4 linked regions of the Homo sapiens genome follow. The protein of the gene in region 4 purifies or fractionates together with the protein of the main gene of each other region. This does not show direct contact. Each region holds a gene or a part of one and is shown on either strand. Other genes may lie near its edges. The genes, in order: KATNA1, KATNAL2, KATNAL1 and TUBA3E.

Evidence for each region.
Region 1: the proteins of TUBA3E (region 4) and KATNA1 purify together in Homo sapiens (tandem affinity purification; one large-scale study listed by IntAct). This does not show direct contact.
Region 2: the proteins of TUBA3E (region 4) and KATNAL2 purify together in Homo sapiens (tandem affinity purification; one large-scale study listed by IntAct). This does not show direct contact.
Region 3: the proteins of TUBA3E (region 4) and KATNAL1 purify together in Homo sapiens (tandem affinity purification; one large-scale study listed by IntAct). This does not show direct contact.

What each region holds. Positions count from the first base shown.
Region 1 is NC_000006.12:149,633,105-149,640,978, forward strand, and holds part of KATNA1 (katanin p60 ATPase-containing subunit A1), read right to left. Parts: intron 5,457-7,874; 5' UTR 5,444-5,456; coding exon 5,282-5,443; intron 1-5,281. UniProt on the Homo sapiens protein: Catalytic subunit of a complex which severs microtubules in an ATP-dependent manner. Microtubule severing may promote rapid reorganization of cellular microtubule arrays and the release of microtubules from the centrosome following nucleation.
Region 2 is NC_000018.10:47,063,829-47,071,702, forward strand, and holds part of KATNAL2 (katanin p60 ATPase-containing subunit A-like 2), read left to right. Parts: intron 1-3,192; coding exon 3,193-3,291; intron 3,292-5,391; coding exon 5,392-5,455; intron 5,456-5,653; coding exon 5,654-5,772; intron 5,773-7,874.
Region 3 is NC_000013.11:30,209,133-30,217,006, forward strand, and holds part of KATNAL1 (katanin p60 ATPase-containing subunit A-like 1), read right to left. Parts: intron 1,311-7,874; coding exon 1,184-1,310; intron 1-1,183. UniProt on the Homo sapiens protein: Regulates microtubule dynamics in Sertoli cells, a process that is essential for spermiogenesis and male fertility. Severs microtubules in an ATP-dependent manner, promoting rapid reorganization of cellular microtubule arrays.
Region 4 is NC_000002.12:130,194,209-130,202,656, reverse strand, and holds the start of TUBA3E (tubulin alpha-3E chain), read left to right. Parts: upstream 1-4,217; 5' UTR 4,218-4,296; coding exon 4,297-4,299; intron 4,300-6,285; coding exon 6,286-6,508; intron 6,509-7,429; coding exon 7,430-7,578; intron 7,579-8,190; coding exon 8,191-8,448. UniProt on the Homo sapiens protein: Tubulin is the major constituent of microtubules, a cylinder consisting of laterally associated linear protofilaments composed of alpha- and beta-tubulin heterodimers.

The sequences.
Region 1 (7,874 bases), on a different chromosome or scaffold from region 4:
TTTTTTTTTTTTTTTTGGAGATGGAGTCTCACTCTGTCGCCCAGGCTGGAGTGCAGTGGCGTGATCACTCTCGGCTCATTGCAAGCTCTGCTTCCTGGGTTCAGGCCATTCTCCTGCCTCAGCCTCCCGAGTAGCTGGGACTACAGGCGCCCGCCACCACGCCTGGCTAATTTTGTGTATTTTTAGTAGAGACAGGGTTTCACCATGTTAGCCAGGATGGTCTTGATCTCCTGACCTCGTGATCCACCCGCCTAGGCCTCCCAAAATGCTGGGATTACAGGCGTGAGCCACTGCGCTCGGCCCTCAATTGCAAAATTAATTCTGATAAAATGAATTAAAACATCCAGGATAGGAAACATCCACGCCTGTAATCCCAGCACTTTAGGGAGGCTGAGGTAGATGGATCACTTGAGCTCAGGAGTTTGAGACAAGCCTGGCCAACATGGTAAAAACCCCATCTCTACTAAAAATACAAAAAGTTAGCCAGGCATGGGGGCAGGCACCTACAGGCCCAGCTACCTGGGAGGCTGAGGCAGGGGAATCTCTTGAGCCCAGGAGATGGAGGTTGCAGAAAGCCAAGATCACGCCACTGCACTCCAGCCTGGGCAACATAGCAAGAATCTGTCTCAAAAAAATAAAAAATAAAAAAAAAATCCAGGCTAACTAAATCATACTACTAATTTATATTCTTATTTAAATTGCATAGCCGGGTGTGGTGGCACATGCACGTAATCCCAGCTACTCGGGAGGCTGAGGCAGGAGAATCGCTTGAACCTGGGAGGCGGAGGTTGCGGCAAGCCGGAGATCACACCATTGCACTCCAGCCTGGGCAACAAGAGTGAAACTCCGGCTCAAATAAATAAATAAATAAATAAATTGCATAACAGGCCAGGCGCGGTGGCTCACACCTGTAATCTCAACACTTTGGGAGGCCAAGGAGGGCAGATCACCTGAGGTCAGGCATTCAAGACCAGCCTGGCCAACATGTTGAAACCCCATCTCTATTAAAAATACAAAAATTAGCTGGGTGTGGTGGCGGGCACCTGGAATCTCAGCTACTTGGGAGGCCGAGCCACAACAATCGCTTGAACCCAGGAGGCGGAAGTTGCAGTGAGCCGAGATCGCACCATTGCACTCCTGCCTGGGCAACAGAGCAAGACTCCATCTCAAAAAAATAAAATAAAATAAAATAAAATAAAATAAAATAAAATAAAATAAATTGCATAACAAATTGAAAAGTTAGGCATAACTTTAAAGTTCTACAAGAATAATTAGCTGGGCATGGTGGCCCATGCCTGTAGTCCTGCCTACTTTAGAGGCTGAGGTGAGAGAATTGCTTGAGCCCAAGGGGGAAAAAAAACCATCAAAGCACAACTTGTGAAAGTTTCATTTTTGTCAAACTTTTATTTTTATGTTTTAGAGACAAGGTTTCATTCTGTTGCCCAGGCTGTACTACAGTGGCACGATCATAGCTCACCATAACCTCAAACTCCTGGGTTCAAGCCATCCTCTCACCTCAGCTTCTCAAAGTGCTGGGATTACAGGTGTGAGCCACCATGCCCAGCCCTACTTTGATAATTTTTATTCTGTTTAATTAACTTTTAAAATGCTGATTAATCCCAATTACCCTGATTTGATCATTAGATATTGTATACAGGAATCAAAATATAATGTGTATGCCCAAGATATGTACAACTATTATATATCAGTAAATAATTTCTAAAAATCAATACAACACTGATCAGAATATACTAATTTTATGGCTAATGGGTCACAACCTACAGACTAAAATAGGTCTCAATTCATATGCAACCAAGGTATTTTTTTAAAAGCAGTCTTTTTTTTTTTTTTCAAATATTTTTTAGAGACAGGGTCTCATTCTGTCATCCAGTCTGGAATGCAGTAAAATGGCCCTAGTTTTGAGAGTAAGGCTCCACCTCAAAAATAAAAGAGAAAAGGAATCTTGACGCAATTTAAAAACTAATCTTGGGCAACATAACAATAACCCATCTCTAAAAAAAATATAAGCCAGGCATGTTGGTTTGTGCCTGTGGCCCCAGCTACTCTGGAGGCTGGGTGGGAGGATTGCTTGAGCCTGAGGAGTTAAGGCTGCAGTGAGCCATGATTGCACCACCATACTCCAGCCTGGGGAACAGACCGAGACTCTGCCTCCAAAAAACCCTCAAAAACCTATATATAGTTTTGATTCAACTGTATTATAGTAATGGGTCTTAACTCAGCCTAAAAACTATATATGGTGATGGTTGTACATTATATATGTATTTAATGCCACTGAACTGTATACTTAAAAATGGCCAAGGCCAAGTGCAGTGGCTCACGTCTGTAATCTCAGTACTTTGGGAGGCTGAGGAGGGCAGATCACCTGAGGTCAGGAGTTCCAGACCAGCCTGGCCAACATGGCAAAAACCCCGTCTCTACTAAAAGTACAAAAAAATTATCTGGGTGTGGTGGCACACACCTGTAATTCCAGCTACTCGGGAGGCTGAGGCAGGAGAATCACTTGACCCCAGGAGGCAGAGGTTGCAATGAGCCGAGACTGCGCCACTGCACTACAGCCTGGGCAACAGAGTGAGACTCCGTCTCAAAACAAACAAACAAACAAAAAACAGTAAAGTGTTATGTATATTTTACCACAATAAGAAAATGGTAGGCCAGGCATGGTGGCTCATGCCTGCAATCCCAGCACTTTGGGAGGCCGAGGCAAGCAGATCACCTGAGGTCAGGAGTTTGAGACCAGCTGGCTACATGGTGAAACCCCGTCTCTACTAAAAATACAAAAATTAGCTGGGTGTGGTGGTGGGCTCCTGTAATCCCAGCTACTCGGGAGTCTGAGGCAGAAGAATCACTTGAACCCGGGAGGTGGAGGTTGCAGTGAGCTGAGACCGCGCCATTGCACTCCAGCCTGGGCAACAAGTGAGAAAATCCATCTCAAAAGAAAACAAACCAGAAAATGGTAAAAAATAAAAATAAAAATAAACTATATATATAATATTGAAATGAAATTTAAGATGATAATGTTTTGCTTTATAACTTAAATGATTTAATCTTAAGTACCTTTAAACAAAAGCTTAGACTTAAGTAAAAGTCTTTGGCCTAACAACAAAAGATCTAAAAAGTCCTTCACTGACAAACTTAAGACTCCTTATGAAATAAAATATTTACTAGGCCGAGCATGGTGACTCATGCCTATAATCCTAGGAATTTGGGAGGCGGAGCCAAGAGGATCATTTGATCCCAGGAGTTCAAGACCAGCCTGAACAACATAGTGAGATGCCATGTCTGTAAAAAATAAATAAATAAAAGATAAATAAAATAAAATAGTTGCCCTTTCTGGTAATTACATGGATATGGTAAAGGATATGGAGGGACAGATATAGGAAAATAGATGAAGTTCAAAGAGATAGGCTGTTTCTCTCAAAAAAATTAAGGACAAATATTGAACAATATTTAAAAAGCAGCTCAGCAGAATCTGAGGTATAATATTCTATCTAGAAGACCACCTCAAAAAGACTATTACTTTCATTTTTTTTTTTTGAGACAGAGTCTTGCTCTGTTGCCAGGCTGGAGTGCAATGGTGCGATCTCGGCTCACTGCAACCTCTGCCTTCTGATATCAAGTGATTCTCCCACCTCAGCCTCCCAAGTAGCTGACATTACAGATGCCCGCCACTATACCCAGCTAATTTTTTTGTATTTTAGTAGAGATGGGGTTTCACCATGTTGGTCAGGCTGGTCTCGAACTCCTGACCTCAGGTGATCTGCCCACCTCAGCCTCCCAAAGTGCTGGGATTACAGGCGTGAGCCACCATGCCCCGCAAGACTTATTTTCTTAACCTTTTTTTCCTCTTTGACATAGTTGAGCCTTGTTAGAAATACCACCCTCCACTGGACCTGTAAGTTCTACAATTTCCAATTTTAAATTTTTGTTAGTCCTCAGTAACTGAAGTTTCTCAATGGGATTCAACATAATCTGCTTCATAAAGTTCTATTATACAAGGAATATGAGGCCAGGCATGGTGGCTCACACCTGTAATCCCAGCACTTAGGGAGGCTGAGGTGGAAGGATCACTTTAGCCTAAGAGTTTGAGACCAGCCTGGCAAACATAGGGAGATCCCATCTCTACCAAAAATTGAAAAATTAGCAGGTCACAGTGGGGAACACCTGTGGTTCCACCCACTCAGGAGGCTGAGGTGGGAGGATTGTTTGAGCCTGAGCCTGGGAGGTCAAGGCTGTAGAGACTGCACTCCCTCCTGGGCAAGAGAGCAAGACCCTCTCTCAAAAAGTTTTTTAAAAAATATGGTACCTGTGAGATTCACAAGCCATTTACAGTTTCGACAATGGCTTAATAAAGTCTACTCTATTTTTACGAAGTAAAAATCTGATCAAAAAATGTCAAAACCATTGTTTTAAAAAACTCTTGGCTAGGCGTGGTGGCTCATGCCTGTAATCCCAGCACTTTGGGAGGTCAAGGTGGGCAGATCACCTGAGGTCAGGAGTTCAACACCAGCCTGGCCAACATGGTGAAAGCCCGTCTCTACCAAAAATACAAAAATTAGCTGGGTGTGGAGGCAGGCGCCTGTAATCCCAGCTACTCGGGAGGCTTGAACCTGGGAGGTGAAGGTTGCAGTGAGCCGAGATCGTGCCACTGCACTCCACCCTGGATGACAAGAGCAAAACTCTGTCTCGAGGAAAAAACAAAACAAAAAAAACCCCTCTTATTAGATTCCAGCAATTAGAATTAAGTAGAACTCATAATACTGCTGATGGTGAAAGTGGATTATTATTCATATAATAAAGTGTCAAGTAATATTATATAGAAATCTGTGTAATAACTCACATACTCATGTTTTGTTTTGTTTTTTATTTTTGAGACAAGGTCTAGCTCTGTTGCCCAGGCTGGAGTGTAGTGGTACAAGCATAGCTCACTGCAGCCTCAATCTCCCAGGCTCAAGTGATCCTCCCACCTCAACCTCCCTAGTAGCTAGGACTACAGGCACACACCACCACATCTGGCTAATTTTTTTATTTTTGTAGAATGAAGTCTTGCTATGTTGTCTAGGCTGGACTTGAACTCCTGGCCTCAAGTGATCCTTCTGCTTTGGCTTTCCAAAGTGCTAGGACTACAGGAGTGAGCCACTGTGTACTGTGCTCGGTAGTCATACAGTCTTAACATGTAACTACATACAGCATTGACATCTGATCTAAATTTTCTCTTCCGAGTACTTAAGCCATTAAAACATACAGCAGCCATTACTCTCACCTGTTGCCATTTCTGCTGGAGGTATGTATCTTTGACTGAGTACAGATACTTGTTCATTTGGTCAAGAACTCCCTGATAATAGACCATCGCAGAGTCATAGTTTCCCAGCAATGCATATTCACGAGCCAATTTTACATTCTCACTAATCATAAGAAGACTCATGTTCAACTGTAAGCTAAAAAGAAGAAGAAAAAAAGAAACACTTTAGGTTTACATGTCTCTTAAAAATAAGTATAGTTATTAAAAAATACTTTCCAGGGCTCCCTCAAGAAACAATCACACATACCACACTTCCCATCTCTATATGTGTGCTCATGCTATTTCACTCCTTTAAAAAAAACATTGTTTTTTTTTTTTTTTTTTTTTTTTGAGACGGAGTCTCGCTCTGTGGCCCCGGCTGGAGCGCAATGGCATGATCTCGGCTCACTGCAACCTCTGCCTCCCGGGTTCAAGCAATTCTCCCACCTCAGCCTCCCAAGTAGTTGGGATTACAGGCACCCACCGCCATGCCCGGCTAATTTTTTTTGTATTTTTGTAGAGATGGGGTTTCACCATGTTGGCCAGGCTGGTCTCGAACTCCTGACCTCAGGTGATCTGCCCGCCTCGGCCTCCCAAAGTGCTGGGATTACAGGCATGAGCCACCGCGCCTGGCCTCAAAGAAATATTTTATTTAGGAGGCTAAGGCAGGCAGCTCACTTCAGGCCAGGAGTTCAAGACCAGCCTGGCCAATATGGCGAAACCCTGTCTCTACTAAAATGTAAAAACTAGCTGGGCGTGGTGGCACATGCCTATAGTCCCAGCTACTTGGGAGGCTGAGACACAAGAATTGCTTGAACCAGGGTAGCAGAGGTTGCAGTAGGCCAAGATCGTGCCACTGTACTCCAGCCTGGGAGATGGAGCAAGACTCTGTTTAACAAAACAAAACAAAAAACAGGCCCGGTGCGGTGGCTCACACCTGTAATCCCAACACTTTGGGAGGCTGAGGTGGGTGGATCACGAGGTCAGGAGATCAAGACCATCCTGGCCAACATGGTGAAACTCGGTCTCTACTAAAAATACAAAAATTAGCTGGGCATGGTGGCACGTGCCTGTAATCACAGCTACTCAGGAGGCTGAGGCAGGAGAATCACTTGAACCAGGGAGTCGGAGGCTGCAGTGAGCCGAGATCGCACCACAGCACTCCAGCCTGGCAACAGCATGAGACTCTGTCTCAAAAAATAAAAAAATAAAATAAAATAAATTTAAAACATTGTTTTAAAAAAGTTCCCACATTCAAACCCTCCCTATTGTCAAAGCCCAGCTCAGATGGCAGTTTTCCTAGTATGTCTACCCCCTGAACTCCTCAGTTCAAAATAAACTCTCCCTCCTCTAAAGTCCCCTTGCACTTTACTGTGACTTTCATCCCAAGACACTTGTCTACTTCAAATTACAGTTTCTATATATGTCTTATCTCTAGTAGACTGTTATCTGACAGTAGGATTTGCATCTGAAAGGTGTGAGACTATATGATCCTTGCATGACACACATTTTATTAAACATCTGCAGAATAAATAGTGAATATTAGATACATTTTTTGAAGCAGTGTGGATTAGCAGAAGGCGTATGTATTTTGAAGTTAGAAAAATCTTGGCTAGAATTATAATTGTGCCACCTTAATCAAGTCCCTTAACTTTTTTCTAAGCCTGTTTTAATATCTGTGGAACTGCCATAGCAACTACTTTCAGGAGTTACGCTATAAACAATAAATGGCTATTTAAAGTACTAAGCATACTACTTGACAAATAGTAGGTCTTCAATAAATGTTAAATGTGTCTGCCATGAAACTTTCTATATATGAGAACCTAATCCAACCTTTGAACCTAGGAGTTCAAGACCAGCCTGGGCAACACGGCAAAACCCCATCTCTACAAAAAATACAAAAATTAGCAGAGCATGGTGGTGTGTGCCTGTAGTCCCAGCTACTCAGGAGGCTGAGGTGGGAGGATTACCTGAGCCTGGGGAGGTCAAAGCTGCAGTAAGCCGAGATAGTGCCACTGTACTCCAGCCTGGGCAACAGAGACAGAGTGAGACTGTGTCTCAAGAAAACATTAAAAAAAGACAAAAAAGCTCCAGGCCCAGATGATTTCTGTAAGTATGGTGGGGGTTTTTTTGGGTTTTTTTGGGTTTTGTTTTTGTTTTTTTGAGATGGAGTCTTACTGTGTTGCCAGGCTGGAGTGCAGTGGCGCAATCTCGGCTCACTGCAACCTCTGCCTCCCAGGTTCAAGCGATTCCCCTGCCTCAGCCTCCAGAGTGGCTGGGACTACAGCCATGCATCCACCACGCCCGGCTAAATTTTTGTATTTTAGTAGAGATAGGGTTTCACCATGTTGGCCAGGTTGGTCTCGATCTTGGGACCTCGTGATCCGCCCGCCTCGGCCTCCCAAAGTGCTGGGATTACAGGCGTGAGCCACCATGCCTGGCCTCGGGTATTTTTGTTGTTGTTGTTTTTGTTTTTGTTTTTTTGAGACGGAGTTTTGCTCTTGTTGCCCAGGCTGGAGTGCAATGGTGCAATCTCGGCTCACCACAACCTCCGCCTCTCGGGTTCAAGCGATTC
Region 2 (7,874 bases), on a different chromosome or scaffold from region 4:
GCACTGTGGAACCAGAAGGCAGTGAAGAACAGGCTTTGGAATTAGCTGACCTGCCTTTGATTTCTAGATCCTTCTCTTGCTAGCTGTGTGACTTTGGGCAAGTTCCTGGGAAATAAAATAGATTCCTGAGTTATAGGGTATTTTTCTAATTTCTATTGCTTCATATTTAATTGAAGACTGAAACCTAGGCAGGCTCAGAGGGGGGTTTAAAATGATCCCCAAAATTCACAGCTCCTCTGAGAAGCTAAGGGCTCCTGAGCTGTCTCTGTTCAGCTCAGCAGTTGTTTCCTGTATGCCTCTTGTGTGTCAGGTGTGTGCTGTGGGCTGGAGACACAAATGTGAACGAGTCAGAGCATAGTCCTTGCCCTCAAGAGTTTCTCATCCCAGGGACAAAGTGCACTTTAAGAGCATGAAGGAGGGAGGGGTGGGGAAAGTGTTAGGAAAGAAGACAGGAAATCGCTAAGGGAAAAAGTGGAAGAGGGAGGCTAGGAGCTGTTCTGGGCATAGGCACTTCCATGAGAAATTGCAGTTTGTGCACATGTCCTGTGGGCCACCTAAGAAGCAGGGAGTGGTGGGGAACGGGTGGAGAGAGGCAGGGTTCCTGAGGAAGGGTGCTGTGAGCAGTACCCAGGGCTGAGAACACACCTATAGAAGAGGGGACCTTAGAAAGGCGCCCGTCGGAGGATGGGATCATCCCATGTGCTTGTGGATGGCTTGTTCTATGACAGTGAGATGAATGAATAGCAAAGAAAAGGAGATGGGGAGACCATCTATAAGGTTTTTACCAGTGAGAGGGGATGAGGGACTGAGCCAGGCTGCAGTAACCCCAAATTAATAGTCTCATTACCATTTTTGCAAAAGGGTAACATGACTATGAGGATAGAACTATAGAGTGGAAATGGCCTGAGATGATTCCATCTGGAATCCTTTCTATAGTAGCATAGGAGGTAGAAACCCTGCTCCTGCTTGAATGCTTACAGTGACGGAGAGCTCACCACCTCATGAGGTAGTCCTGTTGAGTTCTGACTGTTAACTTTGGATTGATACAAGGAGAAACTGTCAGTTGGGAAATTAAACATTACCTTGTGGAACTCAACTCTAGAAGAGGTCAAGAAATACTGCTGTTATCTATGGATGCTTTTAATACCTAGGTAAATGAATCTTCCTTGTGTGCCGAGATTTCACTAAGAAAGGACGGTAATAAGAATGTGAGTGGCTGGTGGGCCTGCATGTAGATCCAGGCTCTATAGACAGAATAAGGAAGACTGAGTCCTTTCTCTACCCTTCAATCCAAGAATGGATTGTAAATATCATGCATGACCAAAGTACTTTTATAAATACTTTCTCTAGACCAGATGCAGTGGCTCACACCTACAATCCTAGCACTTTGGGAGACTGAGATGGGTAGATCACTTGAGGCCAGGGGTTTGAGACCAGCCTGGCCAACATGGCAAAAACCTATCTCTACTGAAAATACAAAACATTAGCCAGGAGTTGGAGACCAGCCTGGGCAACATAATGAGACCCCATTTCTAGAGAGCATTAGCTGGTATATGTGGGTTTCCCAAGATCGACTGTGGGACTTGAGTATGCACAGATTTTGGTATGGGGGAGAGTGTCGGGGGGGGAACAGGGAGAGGTTCTGGAACCAATCTCTTCCATATGCCCAGAGACCATTTCTAGAGACCCCATTAGCTAGGCATGGTGGCATGTGCTGGTAGTCCTAGCTACCTGGGAGGCTGAGGCATGAGAATCACTTGAACCTGGGAGGCGGAGGTTGCTGCACTGTAGCCTGGGTGACAGAGTGAGACTCCATCTCAGAAAAAACAAACAAACAAACAAACAAGAACTTTCTCTAATAAAAGTGAAAGTTGGCTGGGTGCAGTGGCTCACACCTGTAATCTCAGCACTTTGGGAGGCCGAGGCAGAAGGATCACTTGTGTCCAGGAGTTTGAGACTGGGCAACATAGTGAGACTCCGTGTCTACAAAAAATGAAAAAAAATAGCTGGGCATGGTGTGTGCCTCCTTGGGAGGCTGAGGTGGGAGGATTGCTTGAGCCCGGGAGGTTGAGGCTGCAGTGAGTGGTGATCATGCCACTGCCCTCCAGCCTGGGCTACAGAGCGAGACCCAGTTTGAAGAAAAATTAAAAATAAATAAAAATTTAAAAAATTTAAAAAAAATTTTAAAAAAATAAAAATGAACCTCCTATGGTGGAGGGAACTGGATGGGTGGGGAGCAGGAGTAGCACAAACATCTCACCAGCATTTAAAAAATGTATTTATATTTTTGGTCCATGTGCATATATTACTTATTAAAAATTATATAAATATAATAATTAGTTTCAGATTTTTTCTGTAGTCACTCAGAATGACTTTGGAAAGAAGGCTTTTCAGGCTTTTTTGAGGAAACACTCTAGATATTCAGTTTGCCTGAAACAACTCCTACTGAGAAAGGCCCCTTAGTGACTGCTCTGAGGCGTCTGGTGAAATTGAAGTTTGGAAACTGTAAATTAGTTATCAGTAAAAGCTACCTTAATTGATTATCCTAGATGGTTGCTACAGGGCTCTTCTATAAGAGGAGAAAAACTGCACTTTCGCTCGGTTGTCAGCTTCCTTGAATTCTGTAGAAGCAATTGCTCCTGCTGGAAGTAGGGAATGATCGCTAGCGAAAAAAGAGAAATTGGTTTCAGAGGAGCATTATCTCCTTTATGCAACAAATTAAGAAAGTGTTTGTGAGATCAAGGAGCAAGAGCAAGGCCAGGCACTGGCTAGGAACTATGTTTCACAGTAAAACCTAATGTAAGTTGAAGGCATATTCTGTAGCTTCTTTAATTATGGTTATAAATCAGCATGGTTTGCTATTGACTGAAAACAGGTAGAGTCTGTTGTTAGGAGATTTTTTTTTCTCTCTGAAAAATACCACAATGTGTTATCAATGTCTTCTTCAGGGAAAATCATTGAATATTTTCATGGCATACCTTTGGTGAACTAACCCAAAATTACAATGTATATATGTGTTTATATATATATATATATATATATATATATATATATATATATATATAATATGAACAGTTTTTATCACCAGCACTTTATATCCTATTGTAAGTCAAGTATTCTGCTGCTCCCAAGTTTATTACAGCTGTAGAGGAAAACATCAGTTTTAAAAAAATGATCAAATGTGCATTGCAGGACATTTATCTCCATAATCCAAACATAAAGTGGAATGACATTATTGGACTTGATGCAGCCAAGCAGTTAGTCAAAGAAGCTGTTGTGTATCCTATAAGGGTAAGGACGGGAAGCCTCTTGGGGGTTATTTCTGTTCACTATCCATTGGACAAGCTGTATGTCACACAACTATCAGGAAGGGAAGGGCAGGATGATTTTCTGTCCACACGTTAACTCTTTGCTTGTGTCACAGCACTTTCTCAACCCTGGAGCACCAAAGCCTGGTCCATTCTAGATCATTTAAAATCATATTACATATTAGTTCAAGACAGGTGTCTGAGCTAAGTGAAACTTTAAAATCTAAGACCATAGTATACATGATTTGTCAGATTGATTCAAATTAGCCTGCTCCCTTAAAAATATTCTTATTGTTGTAGAAATACCTCTGGTAGGGGAGAATCTCTCACTTTGTTTCCACAGATCCTTCCTTTACACCCCTGCCCCCCTGACCTACCCTCCCCAGGATCGTCTGGGGCTTTGCTTCTGGCTGGTTGTGAAGACTAGACAGCCCCTTCCAGGGCAGTGACCAGCAAAGCCAGCCTGTTGTGCTCATTACTTATTACTGACAAATCTCTGTGCAGTTTACAAACTGGGTAGAAAAATAGAAAAACAATACTCTCCATGTTTGATTTACAAATGGGTTAATGAGGAGATAAGTGATAACTTAGCTTTTGTTGTATAACAGACCACCCCACAACTTAGTGCCTTAAGACAACAATTTATTTGTTTGTAATTCCGTGGGTAGGCAGTTGGAGCTGGGCTCAGCTGGGCTGGCTCATCTCTTTTCCACGTGGTATTCTTGGCTGAGCTCAATCACAGGTCTGAGCCATCAGCCAGAGTAGCTGGAAAAGATGGAGAGACTGAAAAGGCTGGGACAAGCAGTACGGCCAAGGTGTCTCTCCATGTGGCCTCCATCCTCTAGCAGGAAAGTCCAGTCCTGCTCACATGGTGGCAGTGGGTTCCCAGAAAGAGGCAAGAAAGGGAAAGTTCTAATTCACAAGCATCTTTCATGCCTCTTATATTTTTTTGCTAGTCTTATATTTTCAAGTCTTTTACATTTGCTAATGTCCCACTGGCCAAAGTCACAGGGCCAGGCCCAGATTCAAATGTTGGAGAAATAGGCTCCATTTCTTGATGAAAGGAGCTACAAATAATTTGTGACCATTTTCTGTAATCTCCTGCTGTTAGGATTATGAATTTATTTTATTGAATAACCTATTTAGTCTTAAACCACTGAGCCCATGTGGCCCCTGATTTTTGGATGCTTTCCTCTAAGGAGACAAAAATCAATACATTTGGATTCTCTTTTCCCCCTCTTTCTTTCTGTGTTCACACTTAAGGGTAAGAAATACACTAGTGTTCAGAATTAATAGAAATTTACTCACCTTTTCCTCTAAATGGAACTATAAAACTTTTAAAAAGGATAGAACATCTCACTGAAATTCCCTGGATTTGTTGTCCCCATGGCATTACAAGCTCCATATGTGTGGAGATTTGACATCAGGATTAGCATGAAACTAATAGCTAGTTGTAATTTTACTAATATTCCTTGCCACACCCTCTCCCCCATTCTCTACCAACCCTTGCCACCCACATTCCCGAGATTGTTTGAATTTGAACTAATAGGAGAGACTTCCTGAAGGCTACGCATGTCCTGTTCAGCGTTGGTGTCTCTTAATGCGTTTGCCCCTGAATATTCCCAACTTCCAAAACAAGTTTCACCGTAGCTCTGTACTTTATTCGAATAAACCTTTACTAATTGGTTCTAGTATGTATTTTAAAGTTCATACCTGCTTTACAACATTCAAAAGATTGCCAAATGCTCTCCGTATAGAAGTCTGGGGAAAACGATGTTATGCATGTAAGAAATAACTGTTTAACGGAGAGGAAGAAATACCTACATATACCTTTCCTTCCAAAAAAATTGGTCCTTTAAAAAGCTGCAAAAATTGTCAGGCATTCTAATCAAGCGTGAAAATAAAATTGGGATGAATAAGATCTGTTTATTTCGGTCAGAAGCAGACAACCTTAAGCAAAAAAGGGAGCCCTGAATCTTAGAGCTGTGCTGCTTTGACTTCAGCTTTCCCAGCTTGTCTGTGCTGAGAGTATGCAGGCTGATGTGTTGGTACCAAACCTCATCCTTGTTCCTTGTTTCCTTAGTATCCACAGCTATTTACAGGAATTCTTTCTCCCTGGAAAGGACTACTGCTGTACGGCCCTCCAGGTAAACACAGCTTCCTATTTTGATGTCAGTGTTAAGTGTGTGTGCAGAGGATGAGTTGCCCCTTCTGTCCTCACTTCAGGACTGGGGCACACGAGAGCTGAGCAGTCACTTCCTTCCTTGTGTGTGAGACTGACTTCTGTCTATAAGCAGGGGGATGGAGTTGAAATGCCTGCTCATCTTTTATGTGTTTCTCTTTAGGTACAGGAAAGACTTTACTGGCCAAAGCTGTGGCCACTGAATGTAAAACAACCTTCTTTAACATTTCTGCATCCACCATTGTCAGCAAATGGAGAGGGGATTCAGAAAAACTCGTTCGGGTAGGAATTCTTAATTTTGTTTTTAAAAATAAGTTCTAGTGTAATACAGTGGTACAAAATGATGTCAGAGCTTCTTTGCTTTTAGGTGATTTTATGTGAGATCTCAAGATCCACTCCTGGATCTTGATTACCAGCAGCTTGGGAAATGGATTGTCTATTACGTGTGGATGTTAATTGTGCCCCCATCAGCAAAACATGATCTCCCTTCCTTTGGGAATTTGATCAACAGCTCTTTTTTTATTCATGCAATTTAGGCATGAAAGCTGGGGGAAAAAAATCTCTGACGTGGCATATTTTTTCTTCATTCAAGAAGTATTTATTATTTAACATGTACACTATATTTGGTTAACATTTATTGAGAGGCTACTACTGTATGTTAGTCCCTATGCTAGATACTCTAAGAAAGAATCAAGAAACTTTAAACTTCATTATTCTTTCAGATGTTCTGAGCACCTTTGCTTCCATAGTGCCCATAGCCTGTAAGATTTTTTGCTTTCTTTTTTTTTTTTTTTTTAGACGAAGTCTCGCTCTTGTCCCCAAGGCTGGAGTGCAATGGTGCGATCTTGGCTCACTGCAACCTCTGCCTCCCGGGTTCAAGCAATTCTCCTGCCTCAGCCTCCCGAATAGCTGGGATTACAGGTGCCTGCCACCACGCCCAGCTAATTTTTTTTGTATTTTTAGTAAAAAAAAGGGTTTCATCATGTTGGCCAGGATGGTCTCGAACTCCTGATCTCAGGTGATCTGCCTGCCTCAGCCTTCCAACGTGCTAGGATTACAGGCCACCACGCCAAGCGATTTTTTGCTTTCTTTCAGAGGTTGTTTCCATCTTTACAATATCACATTTATAGTTGATGTTATATTTTATATTATAAAATGGTACTGAATCTTCCAATGACATTAAGAGCACTTCCATTTATGGTTTAGGTCCCAGTGTAAGACAGGTCCTTCTTTGAAATCCTGTTAAACTATCACGCTCTGTAGAATGGCAGATATGTAATCAATATAAGTGAATATAAAATATTACGTATTTTCTGAAAAGTGATTAACAAATTATGCTTAAATTACATTCCCTTAGATGACTGTTTCAAAATATGATGGCCTATTTGGAAGTCATAATAGAATATGTTTAAAGGATTGATTTTCCTAAAATAACCTATTATCTATTACCTTGATATCATTTTCAAGTTGTTGTAAATATGTAAGCTTATGTAAATTCTTGTTACCCATTCAAGATGGTAATTTGTGGAAATCTACATTGATATCTTCTATTTCTTTGTTCTTCATCTTGCATCTAACTCAGTGCCAGTTCCGAAGATGGGGCTTGAATTTAGCTGCACCTACAGTTATGGTTCCATGTGATTTTAGTTAGCTGGAGGTTCAGTTACGGTTGGCCCTTGAACAACAGTTGGCCCTTCAACTGCACGGGTCTACTTATATGGGGAATTTTTTTCAACAAAATACAGTATTCACAGGATGCAAAACCCGAGTATATGTGGGTTTCCCAGGATCGACTGTGGGACTCCCCAGTAGCTGAGACTATAGATGCACACCACCAAGCCCAGCTAATTTTTGTATTTTTTGTAGAAACCAGGTTTCACCATGTTGCCCCGGCTCCTCTTGAACTCTTGGGCTCAAGCAATCCTCCCGCCTCGGGCTCCCAAAATGCTGGGATTACAGGCATGAGCCACCATGCCTAGCTTCTCCCTGCCTTTCTAAATACAAGTAGAAACATACTATGTTCCCTTTTGTACCTGGCTTTTCCCCCAACTTAATATGCACAGATTTTGGTACGGGGAAGAGTGTCAGGGGGAACAGGGAGAGGTTCTGGAACCAATCTCTTCCATATGCCTAGAGACGACTGTAGCTGAAATTCATCTCACTAGAATTCTTATCACCCTGAAGTCTTTTTTTTTTAAATATCATTTCTATATGCTGAATAGCAACAAAACTCTTAAAAGATACCACCCAGAATTAGTTTAGGTTCATCTCCTGTCATGAAAAGTGGTGTTTGGAACCACGAGCACAAGACACTGCTAGGTACACGAAGGAAGGTGACATACTCTTGAGACAGGACTTACCTAGACAGAAGAGGAAACTCAGGA
Region 3 (7,874 bases), on a different chromosome or scaffold from region 4:
TAAATAGAGGAATAAAGACACGAATCACTCCCTCTGAAACATGAATATCCACATATAGTGGACATGGAATTCCCTACATGGAGTATTTGTAGGCAACTGAAGGCATAAACTCTGGCTTCTCTTGATCCCATGTGCAGCTCTCTTTGACCAACTATAAATAAATATGAAGGTCTGGAAGAAAAGGATAATTCATAATCACAAAAAAGCTATTAGGAAGGCCAAGCCAACAAAAATGTCAAGTTCTTAAATATTTTGCTATAGTAGCAGTAGGAACTATTGCAACCTTATTGTATGCCACTAAACTTGGATGCACATGGGAAAAATGCGAGCAGAAAAGGTGAGAAAAACAGATGCTGTGGCTTTAAAGAAAGGCTACTAAAGTCAATTTAAGTGCAGTTAGAAAAATAAGAAAAAAAATAACTGCAGTGACAGGAACTGTCTAAAACTTATGATGTCGCTAAACTGAAAAAATTTTAAACGTGTATCTTCCCCAGCTTACGCTGATCATTTTTGCTCATTTGCATGTGTTTAAATAATGCCAACAAAAACTAAATAATATTACTTTAGGTTGATGCAGAAAGGCTCCAACACAAAGCTAAACTAATCTTAGGTTGTCAAAGTCATTATTATCGAGTTAGACACAATAATTTCTTTTTTTTTCTTTTTTGAGACAGAGTCTCGCTCTGTTGCCCAGGTTGGAGTGCAGTGGCGCGATCTCGGCTCACTGCAAGCTCCACCTCCCGGGTTCATGCCATTCTCCTGCCTCAGCCTCCCGAGTAGCTGGAACTACAGGTGTCCGCCACCACACCTGGCTAATTTTTTGTATTTTTTAGTAGAGGCGGGGTTTCACCGTGTTAGCCAGGATGGTCTCGATCTCCTGACCTCGTGATCCACCCGCCTCGGCCTCCCAAAGTGCTGGGATTAGAGGCGTAAGCCACCGACACAACAATTTCTTAAAAATCCAAAGATCAAAAACATCAACGACCACTGCTATATAATTTTCATCTCACAATGAAAAATAAAGTTATATGTAAAAAAAAAGGGACAAATGGGAAACCATTTTAAAGAAATGGGTAGCTGCTTTCATGTCTAACTACACTGGGCTAACTACATTGACTTTAAGACCAGTCCTCCTGCGAAGTCTATAACTAATGTCTAAAATCACAGATCATTAAAAAAATACCTGCAAACATTAGTGATGTCAGCACCAGAATAGCCCTCAATCTTCTCGGCTATATCTTCCAGTTGAATATCAGGATCTAATTCGACCTCACGAAGGTTGATCTTCAGAAGCTCAGCTCTTCCTTTTGCTGTTACAAGATTTTGGTGGTGTTGTTAGATGTTTTACTTTACAAATAATTTTGCTGAGAAATGACATATTAACATTTGGGGGAAAAATGAGGCCAATGCAAAGAAGAGTCAATAACTGTGTGTCCATTAGTATTATTACCAATTCACTGCATGACTCATGGAATCATTTAAATTCCTATGTGCCTCTGTTGCAGTAACTAAAAATTGAAAAAAAAAAAAAAAAAAAACACCAAAAACCACCTAGGTTTTCTTTAAAGACTGTGAAGATACCTACTATGAGAACAAAGAATCTGAGATTCTTCATGAAAAATATAAATATCAGTTTTCAAGCACCGGAAATGCTTCTCAAAAAAAAAATACTTAGCCTGGTGTTACAAAATTACACTGCATCAAGTGTAACTCCTATGAATTACTTTGCTCACCTGTTAGTATGACATGGATCTCCAGAACTCTTATCAGTAGTTTAAAGAACATTTCCTGAAAATCAGTAATTGGCACAAAAAGCTCATTAATGTATTTTTTACTTGGAGAGCCAGCCCACAGACATTTGCTGTTCCAGTATGATTTAAATGTGAACTGAATAAGTTCAAACATACTAGAGAATTTTTAAAATAACCAATCATGCTTGCCATTTCACTAGTGCTTTTAGTGGCAAATCTGCTTAGCACAGCACACTAAGATAATGCATTACTAGTTTATCTGGCGCTCTACTATTTCCTGAGATACAAAATGAAATTTAATTTTCTTCTACTTTTATTTTGAAAAATGCCATATATACAGGAAAAGAAAATCAATGAATACCCATTTCCCTTTCACTGAGATTCACCAATTGCTAACATTTTGCCATTATCACTCTAGCTGGCTCGTCATCTCTCCTCCCTCAACTTTTTGAATTGAGCGCTAGCTGCAGGCATCACAACACTTCACCTTAAATTCCCCAGCATGTATCTCCTAAGAAAAAAGGTAGACATAGCATTTCTCACCCTTATCAGGAGATTTAATACTGGAATATTAGTGTCTAATACACAATTCAAAGCAAAGTTTCCCTATTTGTCCCAAGCCTTTATAACTTTTACAAACCATAACACATTGCAGTCAGTTACTATGTCTCATTCACCTTCTTTCATCTAAAACAGTTCCCCAGTGTTTACTTTTTGGTTCATTTTGTTTTGTCTTTCATGAAATTGACAATTCTCCCCCAATTGATCTTATACAGCCAAAGCATTCCAATAAAGATCCTCCTAAAAGGTCTATCTGTAAAAACTAACGGGCAGATACCAAAATGTTCACAGAAATGGAAAGAACCAAGAACAGCCAAGATGCTCTGGAAGAGCAACAGCAAAGTGGAAAGAAATGCTCTATCAGATTTTAAGACTTACTACAAAGGTATAGGACTCAAAGCAGTGTGACCCTCTTGTGGAAATAGACAAATAGATCAATAGTACAGAACGGGGTGCCCAGCAGCAGACCGAAGCATAATTACAGACACTGAATTTATGACAGAGGTGGTTCAGGCCGTGAGGGGAAGGAGTGTCTTTTCAATTAATGATGTAAGAACAGCTGACTATCCACAGGGAAAAAAATGAAATCAGGTCCTACATCATACTGTGCACAAAAATCAGTGCCAGATATATTACATCTAAATGCAAAGTTGTAAGTATTTTATAACAGAGAAGAATATCTCAATGACCTCAGGGAAGTATTCTCAAGACATATATTCAAAAAAAATCAACAAGGAAAAGATTGATAAACTGACCACATTAAAATGAGGAACTTCTATTCATCAAAAGATACTGTCGACACAGTGAAAACAGATAAGTTACAGAGTTTGAGAAGATATTTGTAACATATATAAGCAACCAAAGACTTGTATCAAGAATATTTAAGGAATTTCTAAAAATCAGCAAGAAAAAGTCAGACTACCCAATAGCCAGCGTGCCTGGCAATGCACAGTGGCCGGACCCTGGTGCTTGCTTGCTCATGCACCCCTCACCACTCTGTGCCTGGCTTGCCCTTGGCCGGCGTGGGATCAGGGCCAGTAGCTCCAGCCGAGCTCAGCCTGCCAGGCCCAGTGGTCAGAACGCTGGGCTCAAGCAAAACTCCAGCAAAGGTGCCACCAAGGATCCTGCAACACAAGCACTTTGGAAAACATATTGAATTCATCTATTAATACTGCAGCTGTGCGGCACTACCTAGCAATTCACTCCTAGGATGGAATGCTCCATTCTGGCATTCTTACCACTATACATGTATGAAAATGTTCACAGTAGCACTGTTCATAATAGCCTAAAACAAGAAATAATTAAAATGTCCACCAAACAATATGATGGATACATTTTGATATAATCACATAATAGATGGTATGGGTTAAACCATGTCCCTCAAAATTTTTAGGCAACTCCTAACCCCCAGTACTTCAGAATGTGACTGTATTTAGAGACAGGAGAGGTAATTAAGGTAAAATGAGGTCATATGGGTGGGCTCTAATCCAACATGACTGGTGTCCTTATAAGAAGAAGCGGTTAGGACACAAAAACCCCTAAGGGGAAGACCACATGAAGACGCCGGGACAAGATGGCCACCTATAGGCCAAGGAGAGAGGCCCCAGAGTGCAACCACCCTGCCTACACCTTGGTCTTGTACTTCTAGCTTCCGGTACTATGAGAAAATACAAACTACCATCAGAGAATACTACAAACACCTCTACGCAAATAAACTAGAAAATCTAGAAGAAATGGATAAATTCCTCGACACATACACCCTCCCAAGACTAAACCAGGAAGAAGTTGAATCTCTGAATAGACCAATAACAGGAGCTGAAATTGTGGCAATAATCAATAGCTTACCAACCAAAAAGAGTCCAGGACCAGATGGATTCATAGCCGAATTCCACCAGAGGTACAAGGAGGAACTGGTACCATTCCTTCTGAAACTATTCCAATCAATAGAAAAAGAGGGAATCCTCCCTAACTCATTTTATGAGGCCAGCATCATCCTGATACCAAAGCCGGGCAGAGACACACCCAAAAAAGAGAATTTTAGACCAATATCCTTGATGAACATTGATGCAAAAATCCTCAATAAAATACTGGCAAACCGAATCCAGCAGCACATCTAAAAGCTTATCCACCATGATCAAATGGGCTTCAACCCTGGGATGCAAGGCTGGTTCAACATACACAAATCAATAAATGTAATCCAGCATATAAACAGAACCATAGACAAAAACCACATGATTATCTCAATAGATGCAGAAAAGGCCTTTGACAAAATTCAACAACCCTTCATGCTAAAAACTCTCAATAAATTAGGTATTGATGGGACGTATCTCAAAATAATAAGAGCTACCTATGACAAACTCACAGCCAATATCATATTGAATGGGCAAAAACTGGAAGCATTCCCTTTGAAAACGGGCACAAGACAGGGATGCCCTCTCTCACCACTCCTATTCAACATAGTGTTGGAAGTTCTGGCCAGGGCAATTAGGCAGGAGAAGGAAATAAAGGGTATTCAATTAGGAAAAGAGGAAGTCAAATTGTCCCTGTTTGCAGATGACATGACTGTATATCTAGAAAACCCCATCGTCTCAGCCCAAAATCTCCTTAAGCTGATAAGCAACTTCAGCAAAGTCTCAGGATACAAAATCAATGTACAAAAATCACAAGCATTCTTATACACCAATAACAGACAAACAGAGCCAAATCATGAGTGAACTCCCATTCACAATTGCTTCAAAGAGAATAAAATACCTAGGAATCCAACTTACAAGGGACATGAAGGACCTCTTCAAGAAGAACTACAAACCACTCCTCAATGAAATAAAAGAGGATACAAAGAAATGGAAGAACATTCCATGCTCATGGGTAGGAAGAATCAATATCGTGAAAATGGCCATACTGCCCAAGGTAATTTATAGATTTAATGCCATCCCCATCAAGCTACCAATGACTTTCTTCACAGAATTGGAAAAAACTACTTTAAAGTTCATATGGAACCAAAAAAGAGCCCACGTCGCCAAGTCAATCCTAAGCCAAAAGAACAAAGCTGGAGGCATCAAGCTACCTGACTTCAAACTATACTACAAGGCTACAGTAACCAAAACAGCATGGTACTGGTACCAGAACAGAGATATAGATCAATGGAACAGAACAGAGTCCTCAGAAATAATGCCGCATATCTACAACTATCTGATCTTTGACAAACCTCAGAAAAACAAGCAATGGGGAAAGGATTCCCTATTTAATAAATGGTGCTGGGAAAACTTGCTAGCCATATGTAGAAAGCTGAAACTGGATCCCTTCCTTACACCTTATACAAAAATTAATTCAAGATGGATTAAAGACTTAAACGTTAGACCTAAAACCATAAAAACCCTAGAAGAAAACCTAGGCATTACCATTCAGGACATAGGCATGGGCAAGGACTTCACGTCTAAAACACCAAAAGCAATGGCAACAAAAGACAAAATTGACAAATGGGATCTAATTAAACTAAAGAGCTTCTGCACAGCAAAAGAAACTACCATCAGAGAAAAGAGGCAACCTACAAAATGGGAGAAAATTTTCACAACCTACTCATCTGACAAAGGGCTAATATCCAGAATCTACAATGAACTCAAACAAATTTACAAGAAAAAAACAAACAACCCCATCAAAAAGTGGGCGAAGGACATGAACAGACACTTCTCAAAAGAAGACATTTATGCAGCCAAAAAACACATGAAAAAAATGCTCATCATCACTGGCCATCAGAGAAATGCAAATCAAAACCACAATGAGATACCATCTCACACCAGTTAGAATGGCAATCATTAAAAAGTCAGGAAACAACAGGTGCTGGAGAGGATGTGGAGAAATAGGAACACTTTTACACTGTTGATGGGACCGTAAACTAGTTCAACCATTGTGGAAGTCAGTGTGGTGATTCCTCAGGGATATACAACTACAAATACCATTTGACCCAGCCATCCCATTAGTGGGTATATACCCAAAGGACTATAAATCATGCTGCTATAAAGACACATGCACACGTATGTTTATTGTGGCATTATTCACAATAGCAAAGACTTGGAACCAACCCAAATGTCCAACAATGATAATGTGGATAAAGAAAATGTGGCACATATACACCATGGAATACTATGCAGCCATAAAAAATGATGAGTTCATGTCCTTTGTAGGGACATGGATGAAACTAGAAATCATCATTCTCAGTAAACTATCACAAGAACAAAAAACCAAACACCGCATGTTCTCACTCATAGGTGGGAATTGAACAATGAGAACACATGGACACAGGAAGGGGAACATCACACTCTGGGGACTGTTGTGGGGTGGGGGGAGTGGGGAGGGATAGCATTAGAAGATACACCTAATGCTAAATGACGAGTTAATGGGTGCAGCACACCAGCATGGCACATGTATACATATGTAACTAACCTGCCCATTGTGCACATGTACCCTAAAACTTAAAGTATAATAATAATAAAATTTTAAAAAAAAGAAAATTAACTTCTGTTGTTTAAGCCACCCAATCTTTGATATTTGTTATGGTAGCCCTAGCAAACGAATATGACAGAATACCACACAGTAACAAAAATGAATGTGAGGTGGCAGCCTTATATGTGGTATATATATGTGGTAACATGGATAAATCTTAAAATACATTGAGCAAAAGAGGCAAGATACAAATGAACACAATCAGTATGATTTCATTTATGTAAAGTTTAAAAGGAGGTAAAACTTTGCTTGGGGATACATTGTTAGGTGATGAAATTATATGGAAAAGCAATACATTATCTCCATAAAAGGAAATCACTGTAAGGGAAAGGTGGTGACCCCCAGCAGAGGGCAGGAAGGAACCATGCTGGGAGGGAACACGCTGGGAGCTGCTGAGTTCCAGGGAGGCTCCACTTCTCCTGGAGCGGGTAACAGGGCTGTCTGCTTCACCAGCTACTGGATAAACTAAACATTTTAGGAACTGTTTCTGTATTGAGTTATGTTTCACACACCACAAACACACAGTGAGACCAAGCAGAGCAGTGCCAAAAGCAGCAAGCAGGTGTGATTTGGGATTACCAGAAAACAGAAAGGGCAGGACTGGAAAACGTCTACCTCCACAGTTCCCTAATCCCAGGAGCCCCCATCCTTGATCCCAGCCAACAGGCTCGCAGGGAGTACACCTGCTCGACATGTGGTTTAGAGCCAAAGAAGTCCTCCAGTCAGGCTGGTGGCAGGAGGGGTAGGGAGAGAAAGGGGTGAGGGGAGGAAGCTCCTGTGCCTACCGATACAGAAGGCTGATGTGCGCCTGATGTCCAGGTAAGAACTGATGTTAACATAAGAGCATCATTACACAATGTTCCACATAGAGCCAGTGAATGACAATGAACAAATACCCCTTTTCATTCTTACAGACCCAATATTAGAATACCACTGTATGTGTAAATCAAACGTTTCACTGTGCCTGGCCTAAGTTCCTTAACACAAAGTTTAATATATTCTCCCACTGAAACAAAGTTCCAGACAGCCAACTTAAAATGAACATACATAAACCTGTTCGTA
Region 4 (8,448 bases):
ATGGCAAGGAGCCAAGCCCAGCTAGCTGACATGGGCTGTGTAGCAACTGGGCACAGCAGGGGCCCTGGAACCAGGCTTGGCCCTGTTGTCCTGCTTGCAGCAGGGACAGTCCATGAGTGGGAGTCCCAAGGAGGTCTGTAAACATCTGTATGAAATGAACCTTACAAAACTCTGCAAAGCCTCTTAAGCCTTTCTCACCCAGAACCAAACTGCCTACCTTGTGCATGTCCTCCTTCTCCTGCCACACCATGCGGTGCTGCTTCTCTGGCCCCCGTAGCTGCTGTGTGAAATCTTGTCGAGGCGCCGCCTTGTCCTCAAGTTGTCACTCAAGCCTGTTTGAATATGAGCAAAAGAGGAAATAATTTGTGTTCCTTTCTGTGTAGCAACTATATGTAAACGTTGTTAGCTGACTTATTGAAATGATTTAATAATTCACAGGACTGTTTTTTTTAGTGCTGTATACTAAATAAAATACACAAGGCAGCAATACTTAGGGGCCAGAAACACTGTTTACTGCAAGTCAATTATGGAATCATAACTTACAGTAAAAATGGGCATGTCCAAGGCTCAATTTTTCTTTTGTCATTTACAGTAGAATAGTTTGTTGCTAATTTTCTACACTGTCTACTGGGAATATGTGTTACTTTTATAATCAGAAAAATAAATATTGCAGTCACGTAGCATATAATGATGTTTCGGTCAACAACAGACAGCATATATATAAGAGTGGTCCCATAAAGTTATAATACCATATTTTTCCCGTAGCTTTTCTGTGTTTAGATACATAAATCCTTGCTGTACAGGTCTGTAGCCAAGGGGCTATATGCTATACCATGTGGCCTAGGTGTGCAGTAGGCTGCACCACCTTGGTTGGTCTAAGAACACTCTGTGATGTTCTCACGTCAACGAAATTACCTGATGATGCATTGTCGAGAACGTATCCCAGCCGCTGAAGGATGCGTGGCTGGACTGAAGAGCACCGTGTGATGTGGGCTACAGCTGAGTTCTGTGCATGATGTGGTTGGAGCCCTGAGGAAGGGGGGCTATGGACTGAATGGTGTCCCCCCCCGCCAATATTAGACGCTGAAGCTCTAATCCCCAATGTGACTGTAGTTGGGGACAGGGCCTATAAGGAGATGATGAAGGTTAAGTGAGGTCATAAGGGTGGGCCCTGATCCAACAGGATTCATGTCCTTATAAGAGACCAGAGCGCTTGGATGCTACCTCCCCGTGGGAGGACATGGTGAGAAGGTGGCTGTGTGCAAACCAGGAAGAGAGGCCTCTGGGGCTTTTAGCCTCCAGAACTGTGAGAAAATAAAACCCTGCTGTTTAAGCCACTCAGTCAGTGGTATTTTTTAGGGTGCCTGGGGCTAATACAGAAGGATTCACCCTCCTGGGGAGAAGGGGCCAGTGGCCTCCTCTGATTTTCCCAGCTGTCGGCAGAACTCCGTCCCTGCCCCTCCTCCTTTTGCCAAAGCATCTTTCTAAGGGAAGACCTGATTGCACTGTTCAGAGGTCCCCAAAGGCCACAGAAAAGTCTCAACTCCTGGACCTCGTGAGTCCCATCCCACTGGGGGAGCTCCCTCTCTCTTCTCTGCTCTCCTCTCAGGAGGGAAAGTTAAGGGCCTGCTTGGCCACCCTCCAGGGAGATGACATGGTGGGATGCTGCATCCTGGTGATGAGCTGGGGGTAAGCCAGCACGTCTCCTCCAGGGCTTTCCCCAGAACTGAATACACACTAAGATGATCTTTAGGGATGGAAGACTCAAACTGGGAAGAATCACACACCTGTAGTCCCAGCCTACAAGGAAGGCTGAGGCTTGGGGATCACTTGAGGCCAGGAATTTGAGTCCAGCCTGGTCAACATAGTGAGAACCAGTGTCAAAAAATAAATAAATAAAAAGGAAGAATCAGGTGACTGTTCCAAAGTCCTCCAAAATGGGTATTGGGTCCTGACTCTGCTCTTCCCGGGACAGGGGTGTGCCTTCCCCTTTCCTGTTGGCCATAAACCCACTCCCTCTCACCAAAGAAATAAGAAAAAGTGTTCACAGCACTTTGAGTTATGTGAGGTGTGCAGAATTTATCAGGCCCAGAGAGACAGGAATATGGACTTCAGTCACACGCCTTGTACTCATGCCCTGGGGTGACTGTTTAAAGGCATTTTGTTCCTGACTAGCTCAACCCATTATCTTCCTGTTCCTGGAATTTGTGATACCAAAGACAATGTAGACAATGTAGAGACAATAAATAGCTTTTTTTTTTTTTTTGAGACAGAGTCTCGCTGTGTTGCCCAGGCTGGAGTGCAGTGGTGTTATCTCGGCTCACTGCAAGCTCCACCTCCCGGGTTCATGCCATCCTCCTGCCTCAGCATCCAGAGTAGCTGGGACTACAGGCACCTGCAGCCATGCCCGGCTAATTTTTTGTATTTTTAGTAGAGACGGGGTTTCACCGTGTTAGCCAGGATGGTCTCGATCTCCTGACCTCGCGATCCGCCTGACTTGGCCTCCCAAAGTGCTGCGATTACAGGCGTGAGCCACCACGCCCTGCCTTCTTTTTTTTTTTGAGATGGAGTTTTACTCTGTTGCCCAGGCTGGAGTGCAATGGCATGATCTTGGCTCACTGCAAACTCTGCCTCCTGGGTTCAAGTGATTATCCTACCTCAGCCTCCCAAGTAGCTGGGACTATAGGTGCTCACCACCATACCTGGCTAATTTTTGTATTTTTAGTAGAAACAGGGTTTCATCATGTTGGCCAGGCTGGTCTCGAACTCCTGACCTCAAGTGATCCTCCTACCTTGGCCTCCCAAAGTGTTGGGATTACAGGTGTGAGCCACCACGCCTGGCCCAATAAATAGCTTACGTTATTTTAATATAAATTCCTCAGGCTAGGCCAGCCGAGGTAGGAGGATCCCTTCAGGTCAGGAGTTCAAGACTAGCCTGGACAACACAGCAAGACTTCTCTAATTTCAAATTCTTGGTAAACAACTTAGGAACTGCCTCTTCTTTTCCTTTAAAAACCCACTTATAACTGCTGCTAATATTTTAAGACAACTTGCATCTCCAGGGTTGCACTTCTCAAACTTGGCCCAAATAAACTATTTTTTTTTTCAAGATGGAGTTTTGCTCTGTCACCCAGGCTTGAGTGCAGTGGCGTGATCTCAGCTCACTGTAACCTCTGCCTCCCGGGTTCAAGGGATTCTCCTGCCTCAGCCTCCTGAGTAGCTGGGATTACAGGCGCATGCCACCATGCCTTGCTAATTTTATTTTTTGTAGAAACGGGCAAGGTGGGACTCACCACGTTGCCCAGGCTGGTCTCGAACTCCTGACCTGAAGCAATCCTCCTGCCGTGGCCTCCCAAAGCACTGGAATTACAGGCATGAGCTGGTGTGCCTGGCCCAACCTCTCCACTTACGTTAATTTTGCCTCCTTTCTTCCTTTTTTTTTTGAGACAGAGTCTGGCTCTGTTGCCCAGGCTGGAGTGTGCTGTGGCCCAATCTCGGCTCACTGCAACAACTGCCTCCCAGTTTCAAGCGATTCTCCTACCTCAGCCTCCCGTGTAGCTGGGATTACAGGTGCCTACCACCAGCCAGGGTAATTTTTGTGTTTTTAGTAGAGATGGGTTTTCACCATATTGGCCAGGCTGGTCTCGGGAACTCTTGACCTCAAGTGATCCACCCGCCTCGGCCTCCCGAAGTGCTGGGATTGCAGGCGTTAGCCATCGCGCCCGGCCCGTTTTCTCCCTTTGGGTCAGAAAAGTGATTGAATCCTGCCACTTCCCGGGTGCTGGGTGGGAACAGGGAAGAGGGGGATAATTGCGGTGCTGCTGTGACTTGGGTAGATGGCGGCAAGGCCTCTCAGAGGTGGCCTTGTTTGCAAAGATCTGAATTAGGCAGGGAGAGGAGCAGGCCTGGGGCAATCAGGGAGGGGCAGTGGCACACTGGGAGCAAGGCAATGTTCCGCGACCCACAGAGGCAGCGCAGTAGCTGTTCCAATCCTGGTCGGAAGACACCCCGGAAATGCCTCAGCAACCGCGCAGCCTTTGATGACCCCGCTGCCTTCCCGCCAATCCTGCATCCAATCAGAGAGCATCCCCACTACACGTGTTGAGCAACGGCCAATCAGAACTGGGATCCGGCCCTCGGCCTGCCTCCCAGGAACTCCGAGCCAATGGCGGCCTGGCACCGGCAGGCCAATCCTGTGCGGCGCGCGTGGGCAGGTCATTGCAGTTGGGCGCTCAGCAGCTGTGGCAGCCGGTTGAGGTCTGGAAGTAGCGTTGGGCTGAAGCAGCGGAGTTCGCCATGGTAAGACCCGGGTCACTCCCGCCCCGCAGATGCCCAGGCAGACGAAGTTGGCCTCGGGTGGACAGAGGGACGTTGTTGCGGGCCTGGGCGCTGAGAGGAGGCCAGAGAAGGACGCAGGGTCTAGTGCGGGACAGGAGGACACGGGATCGTTTCCTGGATCTGCAGGTCCCAGGGCAGGGACGGCGGCTTTTGTTTTAGATGAAGCTGCCGGCCTTTAGTGGACGGGGACCATTGACGGTATCCCGTCCCCCAGAGAGCAAATAGTGGCGTCGCCTCCTGAAGACAGGAGGGCGCTGCTCCCGCTTCACACGTCTTTGTGCTACTGGAAACAGCTGAGGAGCTGCAGGAGCCTTCGGTGACGGGGGTTGGGGCTGTGGACATTGGTCAGATGAGGAATTAAGGCTCAGACGCTGCTGCAACATTGCCTTGTTCACCTAAAGGCAACCGTTAGGCCAGGCGCGGCGGCTCACGCCTGGAATCCCAGCCCTTGGGGAGGTGGAGGCGGGCGGATCCCCTGATGTCTGGAGTTCAAGATCAGCCCGACCAACATGGCGAAACCCAGTCTCTACAAAAAAATACTAAAATTACCCGGGCATGGTGATGCGAGTCTGTGGTTCCAGCTACTCGGGAGGCTGAGGTGGGAGGATCAGCCGAGCCTGGAACTTTGAGGCTGCAGTGAGTCGTGATGGCGCCAGTGCACTCCAGCCTGGGCCACAGAGACCCTGCCTCAAAAAACCAAACAAAAAAAGCAGCCCATTAACATAACAGATTCCCAAGTCCCAAGTCTGAATAGCTGTGATTTGTCAGTTATCCTTTTTTTCCTTTCTTTTTCTTTTTTCTTTTCTTTTCTTTTTTTTTTTTTTTTGAGACAGCACTCAATAAATGCTCTGTTGCCCAGGCTGGAACACAGTTGCAAGATCACGGCTCCCTGCAGCCTTGAACCCCTGGCTTCCAGCAGTCCTCCCGCCTCAGCCTTCCGAGTAGCTGGTACTACAGGTGTGTGCCACCACACCTGGCTAATTTGTAAATTTTTCATAGGGACAGGGACTCACTATGTTACCCAGGCTGGTCTCAAACTGGTCCCAAGTGATCCTCTCACCTCAGCCTTCCAAAGTGCTGGGATTACAGGAATGAGCCACCACACCCAGCTTGGCAGAGTTTAAAGAAACCACCAAAGGACAGTGCAGTGTCCCAGCACTGATGATGTCTGGGAGCCATTACACCCGTAGGCTTCAAGGGGTAGAGAGAGGGCGTGGTTACAAGAAATTAGGAGGGTAGTTTTATGAAGAGGGCAGCCTGCCAAAAGTGTAGCCTTGAGAGGGATTCAGGTCACCCACAGCAGTTGAGCAGGAAGGGGCCAAGGAGGGAGTACCCTGGCACTGCTTTCCTCCAGCCCCCCAGTATCCCACTGCTGCCTGCCATTGACCAAACCAGCAAGAAGCCAGAGGGCGAGGAAGGCCTCTGATGCTGTTCTCAAGGGTCAGCCTTCGAGAGCACAGAGCAGGTGGTGAATGATGGACGGGGTAGAACTGGGGGGCAGAGAGAGGACACACACTGAGCACCTGGGCTTGGACCATGGTGACCTGGGACCTACTCTGTATTTCCTTACCCAACCCGACTACCTTATCCTTTGATCAGGACATAATCAAAAACTGCTACTTATTCTTCAGAGAATTACTGTGACGGGCTATAATGTGGGGTTGATTATTGACATTAAATGGCTTCCAAGTTTTAAAATAACCTAAGTTTTGTGTAGTGGCAAACAGGTTCTAGGGCTACTTCTAGAACTTACTAGCTAGTATGGTTTACAGCAATTAGTTTTCACAGCGATAAAGGGATCAGTCACTAACCCTCCTAGGAAATATCGATTGTGAAAGCGCCAGATACTGAAGCACTATATAAATATTAAATTAGAATATTTTGCATGCCATATAGTTTCAAGTTGCCTTGAAATGAATGGGTTCACATTTATGTTCCGGTTCACAGCGCGAGTGTATCTCTATCCACGTGGGGCAGGCGGGTGTCCAGATCGGCAATGCCTGCTGGGAACTGTACTGCCTTGAACATGGAATTCAGCCCGATGGTCAAATGCCAAGTGATAAAACCATTGGTGGCGGGGACGACTCCTTCAACACGTTCTTCAGTGAGACTGGAGCTGGCAAGCACGTGCCCAGAGCAGTGTTTGTGGACCTGGAGCCCACTGTGGTCGGTAGGTGCCTGGGCACTGGATGGCAGCTTTCCTGAGAGGGTGGGAGAGCATTGGTAAAGCCCCGTGTGGGCTCCTTTGAATCCTCCTGCTGAAAGGATGGGATAGACAGGCATATGCCCATGGCATTGTTAGGAGAGAAACTGAAAGGTTTGTGATGAAAGTGTCTGTGAGACTCGGCTCCTAATTTAGGAAAACCTGACCTACAGGGAAAAGCTGCTTTGCCAGCAGTAAGATGGGCTGTGAAGAGATTCCCTCATGGCTGCCTCAGCCCTGCTCAGGTGGCCCTGCCTGCAGGGTGCAGTGGCATTGGTTCCCTCCCGAATGCTGTGCATTCTCTTATGCTGGTGCACGAGAGTCTTGACCTGCATCTTAGGCATAGAAGGTAAGTACAGAACAGTCATTTGCTTCCTTCAGATTCGCAGCCTGAGGTAGTTTCCAAGGAGAGCTACAAAGAGGCAGCACCTTTCAGTGGCCCCCCAGGAGATGACAGCATCACCTGAAAGCCTGTGGGACCCAGGTCATCCAGGGTGCCCTGATGGGACTGCCCTGCAGAAGTCACACTGACCTGGTGACTGCCCAGGTTGTAAGAGTTTTTAACTTACAGCCTTTGATGTAGCTACACGTAGGAAAGAATTATGTACCTGAGTAGGAGTGCAAGAGCTTATTTCCTTTCACTGGGAACTGGTCGTGCTGACATTTATACCACAAGCTGAGTTTAACGTCGTAGAGTCATAAATTGCATATGCAGTTTGGTTATCACACAGAGACATTTTCTACCAGACACTGCCACTGTTGACCTATGACATGTAGGTCATGTACTTTGAACAGCATGTGCTCTGTAGAAGTGAACACTCCTGGAATGTGTCCATCTTGGTGAGTACAGGCCTTAAAAATTCACAGTACACACTGTCTCTTTTGCAGATGAAGTGCGCACAGGGACCTACAGGCAGCTCTTCCACCCAGAGCAGCTGATCACCGGGAAGGAAGATGCAGCCAGTAATTACGCCAGGGGCCATTACACCATCGGCAAGGAGATTGTTGACCTAGTCCTGGACCGGATCCGCAAACTGGTAAGAAGAGAAGGTTTCATGTGGCCATTGTCTTGCATGGGAGGGGTAGTTCTTGGAATGTGAAAGGGAAGTCATTTTATCAACACTTAGACCAGCATCTTGGCCGGGCGCGGTGGCTCACACGTGTAATCCCAGCACTTTGAGAGGCTAAAGCAGGTGGATTACCTGAGGTCAGGAGTTTGAGACCAGCCTGGCCTACATGGTGAAACTCTATGTCTACTAAAAATACGAAAATTAGCTGGGTGTGGTGGCACACACCTGTACTGCCAGCTACTTGAGAGGCTGAGGCAGAAGAATTGCTTGAACTCGGAAGGTGGAGGTTGCAGTGAGCTGAGATTGCACCACTGCACTCTAACCTGGGCAACAGAGCAAGATTCCGTCTCAAACAAACAAGCAAAAACTTAGACCAGCATCTTGAGTCCTACTGAGTCTGCAATGGTGATTTGTCCGTAGATCTTTGCTTTTCTTTGCTTCAAAGTGTATTGCATGTTTATTATGGATGATTTGAATCCATATCAACTCTTTAGAGGCAAAGAGAAGCGGCCCTGGCTTGTTGGAGGTTGGTGGTGTGGCTTCCACGGGCATTGGCTCACGTTGTCTGGTTTCTCTCAGGCGGATCTGTGCACAGGACTGCAGGGCTTCCTCATCTTCCACAGCTTTGGGGGCGGCACTGGCTCTGGGTTCGCATCTCTGCTCATGGAGCGGCTCTCAGTGGATTACAGCAAGAAGTCCAAGCTAGAGTTTGCCATTTACCCAGCCCCCCAGGTCTCCACAGCCGTGGTGGAGCCCTACAACTCCATCCTAACCACCCACACGACCCTGGAACATTCTGACTGTGCCTTCATGGTCGACAATGAAGCCATCTATGAC